3 linked regions of the Homo sapiens genome follow. The protein of the gene in region 3 purifies or fractionates together with the protein of the main gene of each other region. This does not show direct contact. Each region holds a gene or a part of one and is shown on either strand. Other genes may lie near its edges. The genes, in order: SLC12A9, PI4K2A and NPC1.

The links.
Region 1: the proteins of NPC1 (region 3) and SLC12A9 purify together in Homo sapiens (affinity purification with mass spectrometry, with the first as the bait; one large-scale study listed by BioGRID). This does not show direct contact.
Region 2: the proteins of NPC1 (region 3) and PI4K2A purify together in Homo sapiens (affinity purification with mass spectrometry; 2 studies listed by BioGRID and IntAct, with this or other methods). This does not show direct contact.

What each region holds. Positions count from the first base shown.
Region 1 is NC_000007.14:100,859,159-100,862,807, reverse strand, and holds part of SLC12A9 (solute carrier family 12 member 9), read right to left. Parts: coding exon 3,647-3,649; intron 2,924-3,646; coding exon 2,766-2,923; intron 2,659-2,765; coding exon 2,576-2,658; intron 1,671-2,575; coding exon 1,546-1,670; intron 1,417-1,545; coding exon 1,224-1,416; intron 1,072-1,223; coding exon 897-1,071; intron 128-896; coding exon 1-127. UniProt on the Homo sapiens protein: May be an inhibitor of SLC12A1. Seems to correspond to a subunit of a multimeric transport system and thus, additional subunits may be required for its function. May play a role in lysosomal ion flux and osmoregulation.
Region 2 is NC_000010.11:97,674,248-97,677,028, reverse strand, and holds the end of PI4K2A (phosphatidylinositol 4-kinase type 2-alpha), read right to left. Parts: 3' UTR 595-2,781; downstream 1-594. UniProt on the Homo sapiens protein: Membrane-bound phosphatidylinositol-4 kinase (PI4-kinase) that catalyzes the phosphorylation of phosphatidylinositol (PI) to phosphatidylinositol 4-phosphate (PI4P), a lipid that plays important roles in endocytosis, Golgi function, protein sorting and membrane trafficking and is required for prolonged survival of neurons.
Region 3 is NC_000018.10:23,584,258-23,588,006, forward strand, and holds the start of NPC1 (NPC intracellular cholesterol transporter 1 precursor), read right to left. Parts: upstream 2,250-3,749; 5' UTR 2,087-2,249; coding exon 2,030-2,086; intron 1-2,029. UniProt on the Homo sapiens protein: Intracellular cholesterol transporter which acts in concert with NPC2 and plays an important role in the egress of cholesterol from the endosomal/lysosomal compartment.

The sequences.
Region 1 (3,649 bases), on a different chromosome or scaffold from region 3:
AGATGCTGAGCCCCCTGGCGCACGGAGGGTGAGAGGGTTAGATCCACAAAAGCCTTCACCTGGGCACGGTCCACCAGGCTGAGCCATGCCCCATACTGCGGCTGTACAGGGTCCGAGGGCAGGGAGTCTACAGAGAAGATAAGGAAAGGAAGGTAGCCAGTGTTGTCCAAACTCAATGTCTCCTAGAGTCCAAATCACAGACGGGCCTGGGCAGGGCTATGGCTACTTGGAGGGGTCATGGGAAAGGATAAAAGGGGCAGAGGGGCTGGTGTCGGGGCTCATGCCTGTAATCCCTGCCCTTTGGGAAGCCAAGGTGGGAGGGCTGCTTGAGCCAGGAGTTCCAGACAGCCTGGGAAACATAAAGAGACCTCATCTCTACAAATGAGCCAGGCCTGGTGGCACACACCTGTAGTCCCAGCTACTCAGGAGGCCAAGGCAGGAGGATTACTTGAGCCCAAGAGGTTGAGGCTGCAGTGAACTATGATGGCACCACTGCTCTCCAGCCTGGGTGACAGAGCAAGACCTTGTCTCAAAAAAAAGCGGGGGAGGGGTTCTGGCCGTGGTGGCTCACACCTACAATTCCAGCACTTTGGGAGGCCGAGATGGGCGGAGCACTTGAGGTCAGGAGTTCGAGACTAGCTTGGCCAACATGGTGAAACCCCTTCTCTACTAAAAATACAAAAACTAGCCAGGCATGATGGTGTGTGCCTGTAATCCCAGCTCAGGAGGCTAAGGCAGGAGAATTACTTGAACCTGGGAGGTGGAGGTTGCAGTGAGCCAAGATCGTCCCACTGCACTCCAGCCTGGGCAACAGAACGAAGCTCCATCTCAAAAAAAAAAAAAAGGTAGGGGGAGAGAAGGATGGGAGTGAGTGAGTGAGTGGGAGGGCAGCTCACCGAGGTCTCCCAGGGTGACGTGGCCCAGCACATACAGCCCCCCCTTCTTAAGCTGGTTGGCCAACCGCAGCAGAGGCAGGGCGCCCCGGGGGTTCCCCACCAGGAGCAGCAGCTGGGGCCGCCAGAACTTCACGTGATCCTTCCGGACGTCCAGCCGAAGCAGATACTTACGCACCTGGGTATAGGGGTGAGGCAGTGGGGAAGTGGCAGGATCAAATGCACAGCCCCGTTCAGCGCCTCCTGGACGGGAGCACCAACTCCAGCCAAAGAGAGAGGGGGTTCTTTGACCACCTCCCATTTCCCCACCGCCCCACCAGCTCCCCATACCTGGTGGAAAAGCAAGGCCTGGCTGACATAGCCCCAGCTACTGGGGCCTCCTCGCGCGGTGAGCAGGGCAGCCAGCAGACCCATGAGGAGCAGGGAGCCACCAGCCGCGCCAGGACTGATGAGGAACATCATGAGCAGGCAGGAGGCCACCCCCAGCAGGCAGGTGTGCCAGGAGAACAGGCTGAAGGTGGGGCTGCGGGCATGGAGGGGAGGAGGGACAGAAACTCAGGGCAGGCCGCACACGAGGCTGCAGTCCCCAGCCCCACGCCTGAGCCCGAGTCCTCCCTTCTTCTCTCTGGGGACACAGATCTGAGTCTCTCACCGGAAGTTGGGGGCCGAGGCCCACTCCAGGCTCAGGCAGGACAGGTCCACGGCAGCATAGGCCACCAGGTAGAAGACAGTGACCACAGCAGCCAGTGTGTTCAGCTTCCCAGCCAGGAGCACCAGCTGGGCAAGGGCCAAGAGGCGTGCCGTTGTTCCAAAGTGCCAGTGCACCCCCAAAATGCCAGTGAACACCAAAGAATGCCAGTGTACCCCAAAGTGTCAATGAGCCCCAGAAAGTGCCAGTGAACCCTGCAAAGTGCCAGTGCACCCCCAAAGTGTCAATGAACCCCCAAAATGCTATTAAACCCCAAAAGTGCCAGTGCACCCCCAAAGTGTCAATGAGCCCCTAAAATGCTATTAAACCCCAAAAGTGCCAGTGTATCCCCAGTGTCAGTGAACCCCAGAAAGTGCCAGTGTACCCCCAAAGTGTCAGTGAACCCTGGAAAGTACCAGTGAACCATGCAAAGTGCCAGCGCACCCCCAAAGTGTCAATGAACCCCAGAGAGTGCCAGTGCACCCCAAAGTGTCAATGAACCCTGAAAAGTGCCCGTGAGCCCTGTAAAGTGCAAGTGCACCCCCAATGTCAGTGATCCCCAGAAAGGGCCAATGCACTCCCACAGAGTGCCACCAAACCTCCAAAGTATCAGTGAACCCCCACAAAGTGTTGGTACATCCCACAGAGTGCCAGTGAATCCCTCAAAGTGCTGGGGCACCCCACAAAGTGCCAGTGAATACTGAAAAATACTAGTATACCCCAAAAAGTGTCAGTGAACCCTGCACAATGCCCGTGTACCCCAAAAAGTGCCAGTGAACCTCCCAGGGTGCCAATGAACTCTGCAAAGCACTGGGGCAACCTGCAAGGTGCTGGTGAACCCCACAAAGTGCCAGTGAACCCTGCAGAGTGCCAGTGCAACCCCAAGTGCATACGCATTTGTCTTTACATTTGTCTCCCAGCCTGCATCTAACTGCACCCCCATCCTGCCAGCTGGTGGGGTGAGGGAAAGGGCCCCTTGAAGAAGAAGGCTCACCTGCACCAGGCCCCAAGAATAAAGTACAGCTGCCCAGGGGTTTCCCCCTCGGGACACAACCTTGGCCGGTGCCAAGATCACGCCTAGAAAAACAGAATCCACAGCAGACACATCAGCCAGGGCTCAGCGGGGACGGAGAGACAGACAAGGGAGGGCGTGCTCCAAGCCAGCAAGGAGGCAGAGAACCCACCAAAGAGGTCATCCCGGGCCAGGGCATGGAGGATGCGGGAGGCACCAATGAGCGAGCTCATGGACGCTGAGAGCGCTGTGGCATAGATTCCGATCAACACCAGTGGGGGCCACAGGCTGATGGCGCGGAAGAACCCATAGTCTTCCTGCAGCAGGGTCCTAGGAAGGAGGAAAAGGAGGACACGGATGATCATGCGTCACGGGGTAAGAAAATCTCCAGCCCCGATCTTAAGGATCAGACTCAGATATCAAATGTGCTAAAGGGATATGCCTGGTATTCATTGGGCAGCCTTGGATTTAATCACTCAGTGGTCATTCCTTCCTTTTTTTTAAGAGACAAGGTCTCACTCCAACCCCCAGGCTAAAGTGCAGTGCTGTAATCATAGCTCACTGCAGCCTCGACCTCTTGGACTCAAGCAATCCTCCCACCTCAGCCTCCCAAGTAGCCAAGACTACAAGCATTTGCCATCACACCTGGCTAATTTTTGTATTTGGGGGGAGGCTCTTGCTCTGTTGCCCAGGCTGGTCTGGAACTCCTGGGCTCCAGCGATCCTCCTGCCTCAGCCTCCCAAAGTGCTGGGATTACAGGTGTGAGCCACCGCACCCGGCTGTCATACCTAATGGTATATGCACAAGAGGCCAAATATTTGTGGAAATGCAAACTGGGTAGAAAGCCACTACCCACCCTCACTCCCAAGCTAAGTGCCTGCAACAGTACTGGGTCCATGGCAGCTGCTGGCTATAGGTTGTCAATCGCCGGTAGCCACCCTCCACCCCAACAAGCTGGGTTTCTGCTTCCCAGTCCCCCAGCCTGTGTTTCCCCTTGGTGACCCAGGTGCACCAATCTTGTTCGACACTCCACCCCCATCCCTCCCCAGACACCTG
Region 2 (2,781 bases), on a different chromosome or scaffold from region 3:
AGGCTTCCCATGGCCTGGAAACCCTTGAAGGCAGGGTTTTTCCCACAGTTCTGGCTCCACCTCAAGAGAGGCATACTCTGTGCTTATTAGCTTTCTTCTCCCTCTCCACCCACCCTATATGCTTGATTATTCAGGGTTTGAAGTGGGGCAGTGATGTACACAGGGCAGGGCTGCCCTCTGGTGGCCAAGAGGAGGAACCACTACTACCTTGAGTCAGGTAGGTCCTCTTTTTTATTTTATTGTTTATTTATTTATTTATTTATTTTTATTTACTGAGAGACAAAGTCTTACTCCAGGCTGGAATGCAGTGGTGCAATCTCGGCTCAGTGCAACCTCCAACTCCCGGGTTCAAGTGATTCTCCTGCCTCAGCCTCCCAAGTAGCTGGGATTACAGGCGTGTGCCACCACACCCAGCTAATTTTTGTATTTTTAGTAGAGACGAGGTTTCGCCATGTTGGCCAGGCTGGTCTCAAACTCCTGACCTCAAGCAATTCACCCACCTCAGCCTCCCAAAGTGCTGGGATTACTGGTGTGAGTCACTGCACCCAGCCTGTAGGTCCACATTTCTTATCCCAAGCCCTTGGCACTAGATTATTTTGGAATTCAGATTTTTTATTTTTGGCTCTTAGGAAGTAGTCAGCAAATACTGTATAATCCCTAGTAGGGAACCATGTCATAAAATATATTGACATTTCTGCAACAAAGAATCACACTAAAAGGAACACATCATAATTACCCATAGCTTCCTATCAGTGTAAGTTCAGGTCAGGTTTGGTTTCAAATGGGTTATGAAAATACTTTTGGTTTTCAGAGCATTGGGACTTTGGAAATGAGGACCTGGATCATCCTTTATTAGGGAGAAATAGCCCCAGGAGCCACGTCTCAGCAATTCCATGGAAACACAGGTTTCTTTGCCCTCAAAATTCCGTTCCTACCTTCTTTGTCTTCCTTCCCCCAAAGAAACTGGACAAAAAAGGTCAGAACTGTATTTGTTATTCATACATTTGCGTTGATTTAAATACATTACGTACAATTTCTACATTGGATTAGAAGAATGACACAGGGGGCAGCAACACTCTCGCAGCCCAGCCTCCATTCCCTGACACTGGAGGCAGGGCCTATGGCTGGCAGAGGGACGGTGTTCCATGAGTGCCACTCAGAAGCCTCCCCCGGCATTCTGGGCCCCTGGCTCTTCCAGAGTCCACATTCAAGGCAACCTGAGCACAGGCTTGAGGGAGAGTGGAGAAAGGCCAGGAAAGGATGCCCACACTCTTGCCTGCCAGGCCCAGGACCAGCTCTCTCCTACACTGGACCCAATTTCCTTCTGATCACAGAGCTGGTCTGGATCAAGACAATGTGGAGATCTGGTGTGGAGGCTGTGGCCAGGTGAGGCAGCCGGGCTCCCTGTTAGACCCCCAGGCTCTCTTGAGCACCAGATGGGCACTTTACCAACAGGTTTGGGTAAAAATGTCTACAGAGAGCTATGCACACCTGGGTCCCCTTCTGGCTCCTACAGTCAAGGGGCAAGTGTTCTCTCGAACATTGTTCCCAAGGCCAGTGTCCGAGTCAGCTGCATGTGATTGTCGGGGCTGGGATTGGGGCAGGCAGGCGAGCTGTACCTTCGTCCACAGGGCATGCACATCCAGCTCTCAGAAATTCTTCCTGTCAGCCAGGTGGAAGCCCGGGACAAGTGGACTCTTGGTGGCTGGACTGGAAGGGGACCGGCGGGGACCAGCCTGGACCAGCTGACCAGAGGGCTGCACATCTCTGCTCTGCAGCCGGGCAAGCAGAGGACATGCAGCCATAGTCCTCACTCCCTTTCTTTGGTTGTTTTTCAAACCTTCAAGATAGTTACTTTCTGAGGTTGACTGACCAATCGCAAGGTGCCAGAATTGTGAAATGTCCAGTAGCACAGGGCATGAACACAGCTGCCCCTCCAGACACAGATGGCACCCTTTTTACTCCCTCCTGAGGCCGTACTTTGCTTTGGTGTAGAAATGGCTCAAACACCTGGCAAGTGGGGGTGGGGAGTGAGGCAGCAGGGGAAAAGACACATGGAAGCAAGAAGATACGCACTGAGCTGCGCAGGACCTGGGACAGTTTGAAGGCCTCTCTCCTTTGGGCCTCACCTTTCTCAGGGAAGCCATAGAGAAATCGGCCTAGGACAAGTCAGAGAGAAAAGGGAAACTGCCACTTATGAGGCAGAATCCACGTCCTGTTACTTCCACCAAGCAGCAGCGGTAGCACAGAAAAAAGTCCAAGAACCTAATAGCCTGTCCTCTTGGAAGCCAAGACTCATCCCAGAGCCCTTGCAGAGACCCACTCCCGAAGACAAACTGAACTCTTACATCAAAAGAGTTGGGGGGAAAAAATTTAAAACGAGAGGAACAAATGAGAAGATTGGGACCAAGGACTCAGGAAGCAAGGTGGGATATGTTCACCCATAGACCACTTAGCTCCCGGCATACACTCCGGCTGCGTGGATCACTTTTACATGCTGGGAGTCAACTTCCTATTAAAATATAAATGCTAAGACTAGCTCTTCCTGCCTCTGCTTGAGAAACAGACAAGCTGTAGGCCAGCAGAGAGCAGAGAGGTTCTCTATGATTGTGTGCGGAAGTGCTGGCGGGGGTAAAGCAAAAACCTCCCTTCCAGGAGAACTGTTTCGAGGCTTGCAGCCAGCCCACAGCACTGATGGGAGATGGAGGAGGCTTGGCAAAAACCCAAAAGAAAGGTGTGGCTTCTGTCTGTCCCAGTGCTGTGGTACTGCGAGTCATCCAG
Region 3 (3,749 bases):
AGACTGAAGCTAATGAGCTGCTATCATCGGTACGAATTCTAAAAGCAGACACACTCTCTCTCCCAATCTGTTTGGCTTCATGGCTCCACCCCAATCTGTTCAGGTGCACTGAAAGCTTTCAGACATGAGGAATTTTTAAAATAATAATAGGATTATTTCCAGTTAAGGTTTACAGACCTTGAAAAGGCCTCCAGGCATTTTTGCAAGAGACTTACAACAAACCTCTGACCTATCCCAAATGTCATAAAAGAAGCACTCATTGGCCATCAGCCTTGGGTACTTGAGATTTAAAAAATACTTAAGAGATGGCTACTTAATAATGTGAAGCCTGGCTGGGCGAGGTGGCTCACACCTGTAATCCCCAAAAGAGGAGGGCGGATCGCTAGAGGTCAGGATTTCGAGACCAGCCTGACCAACACGGTGAAACCCCATCTCCACGGAAAATACAAAAATTAGCTGGGCGTGGTGGTGGGCACCTGTAATCCTAGCTACCTGGGAGGCTGAGGCACCAGAATTGCTTGAATCCAGGAGGCAGAGGTTGCAGTGAGCCGAGATTGCGCCACTACACTCCAGACTGGGCAACAGAGACTCTGTCTCCAAAAAAAAGGGAAGCCTATTTAAGGTCCTGATCTAAAACTCTAGGAGGGGCCAGGAGTGGTGCTCACAATAATCCCAGTGCTTTGGGAGGCCAAGGTGGAAGGACTGCTTGAGGCCAGGAGTTCCAGGCTGCAGTGAGCTATGATGGCGACACTGCCCCCACGCCTGGGCAACAGAGCAAGAACCTGTCTCTAAAATAAATAAATTTTAAAAATAAATTTTAAAAAACTCTAGGGAAACAGAATAGCCACATTTTCTCTACGGCACATAATTGCTATTATTTATTTCTCTCTCTTTTTTGTTTTGACACAGGGTCTTGCTCTGTTGCCCAGGCTGGAGTACACCGGCGTGATCACAGCTCACAGCAGCCTCAACCTCAACAATGAAAAGAAAAACAAAATGTTTTTAAGACGGTGTTTCACCATGTTGCCCCGGCTGGTCTTGAACTGCTGAGCTCAAGAGATCCTCCCGCGGAGCCCTTCTCCTGGCTCTTAGTCCATTATTGGATCAACATCACCTATCCCCTTCTGAGAACTAAATAGAAGTCGAAGGAGAGTTTTTTCTAGTCCACGGAACCCCCTCTCCCCTGATTCACCACTTCCTATTGACGCCACACCTATGTGAGGGGCGTTAATGTGCACAAGGACACAATTCCCCGGAGGCACTCTCATCCTGATTTGGTTTAACGAGTCACAGCGTGACACTGCCCCACTCCAGTTTTAAAAGAGGAAACTACAGACACACAAATACTGAGGTGCTCTTTCCCAAAGCTATTAAACCAAGCAAAAGCCCCCAGAAGGAGTCAGCAGGACACCGAGTTCCAGGCCCCATCCTGTCGCTGGCTAATAGTGACAAGGGGAAATTCAATACCGCCCTGTGAGTCTCAGTGTCCTGAGGTGTAAAAAGGAGTTGATGAAAAGTAACCTGCCCTCTTTAGAAGACCAAGCTGACTTATGTCAAGTACTCAAGGCAGTTTCACCGGGTGCTTGAGGAAGTTTGTGTCTCTTTACCTCTGCTTCCACCTCCATCCTCAGGTGATGAGAAGAGGAAATAAAGTGGTTAGAGCTCCTAAATTTTGGAGTTCGTGCGCATGTAGCAGAATTTTTTAAAAAGCAAGTAGTGTCCCTATCCCACTCTACCCACTTTCCTCCCTTCTTCTGGTGCCACATCCTACACAGAGAAATTAGGTGACCACAGATGGAACAAGCTCAGAACAGGTCACCCAAGCCCCCACTGCCACCCTCTTCCAGACCACAGGAAAGAGAGCGTGGCCGGAGACAGAAACAGGACAAGTGAGGAACCTCCGAGCTCTCCATCGCCAGACCAACTTCCCCAGGACCCGGGCCTGAGCCGTCGCTGGGCCCGTCGCCTTCCCCGGCTCTCGGCCCCGCCACGTCCCCACAGGGCGTCCCGGTGGCCGGCGACCGCTCACCTGCGCTGGACACAGTAGCAGCAGGAGGAGGCCAAGGGCCAGGCCGCGAGCGGTCATGCTGTGGCCGCGCAAGGCTGCTGACGCCGGCGGCGTTCGGCTGGTTGGGCTCCCCGGAGGCGGCTCTACTTCCCCGGGCTGTTTCAGCACCCCGCGCAGGAGGAGCGGAGGAGCAGGAGCAGGCGCTGACCGCGGCAGCAGGCTGCGCGCGCCGGTCAGGAAGGAAGAAGGCGTCGTCGGCTCCGCCCTTTCTGGGAGGTGCCGCTGCCGGGACTCCCTGGCCCGGGCTGGGGCGCCGCCGCGACCCCGCTTCAAGGTCCCCGTGTTGCCCTTCTCCTCAGCCCCTGCAATCCCCGGGGGCCAGGCGCGGGACTTATGGAGTCTGGCTCGGCCCGGGAGAGTATCTGTGGAGTTGTGCCAACGGTTTCTGGCCGTGATGCTTTCCCTTTTCGTCTCTGGGTTGGAGGGGGCGGGCGAGGTTTCAGCGAAGGGTAGTGCTGTTCTGGGGGACTTCCGGGTAAGGTCCCGCCCGGCCGCGGAGTCTCTGTTTATTTCGGCTCCGACAATTACGCTGAGCGACTTCTCCTCCCAACCCAGTCACCTGAAAGGAATCTGGACCCCGGCACTTTCTAGCAGAGCCCGGGGCGGTGACGCGCGGTGGCCTGACCGTGTGACGATCCGCGAGTGCGGCGGGGCGGGGCGGGGCGGAGCGCGGGGTGGGCGGTGGCGGTGCGGCCAGGCCCGGGAAAAAAAGTGCGGGAGCCTCGCCACCTGCTGGCCCAGCTGCGCAGCGCAGCCCGTGGGCGCGAGGAAACCCCGAGGTGGGGACCAGGGTCTGTTTTAAGTTCTACGTGAAGGCAGATAAAGAAGACGCGTTGTCATTTTTGAGCCATGCGTTTGATATATGTATTTATCTTTAACTCTAGTTGTATGTGTTTCTGGTAACGTTTTCCCTCAAATTTCAAGTATTCAGACCACTCAAAAGCATCTGTCATTTCCATTTTGAAGTTAAGAAAATGGAGGTGAAGATCTCTTTCCCAACAGTGAAAGCAAATTTACGATGAAAAGACTAAACCTTCATCTGGAGCAATGACCGAACCCCTCCCCAAGGAGTCCCATGATGCAGATGACCTTCCCATCCCTATCCTATAAAGTGCTGTTTCACTTTCTGTCTTGCCTTCTCACCTCCTCAGCCCTGAGATGTCCACCTGGCTGGCCTGGCAGTGAAACTATGGGGATTTCTTCAGGACCTTCAGCCTAGGTCCTCCACGACGACCTCGTGGTCCTCAGTCAGCTCTGTGCTCTCGCTTCCCACTCCCCAGGCTCCAGCTCCTGGTGCCCCCACTGAGGATCAAGTCCTGTGTATGCCTTCATGCAGGGATCCTCAAACGGCCATCCCCAGACCAGCAGCAGGAGCATCTCCTTGGAACTTGTTAGAAATGTAAATTCTCAGCCAGGGCAATGTAGCAAGACTCCCTCTATACAAAAAAAAAATTTTTTTTAAGTTAGCTGGGCATAGTGGCACACACCTGTAGTCTCAGCTACTAAGGAGGCTGAGGCAGGAGGATTGCTTGAGCCCAGGAGGCTACAGTTGTCTATGATCATGCTGCTGCACTCCAGCCTGGGTGATAGAGCAAGACCCTGTCTCAAAGACAGAGAGAGGTAGAAGAAAATGTTACAGTAAGATTTCCAAGTTTATAAATTACTTTGAAGGTTCTAAGTT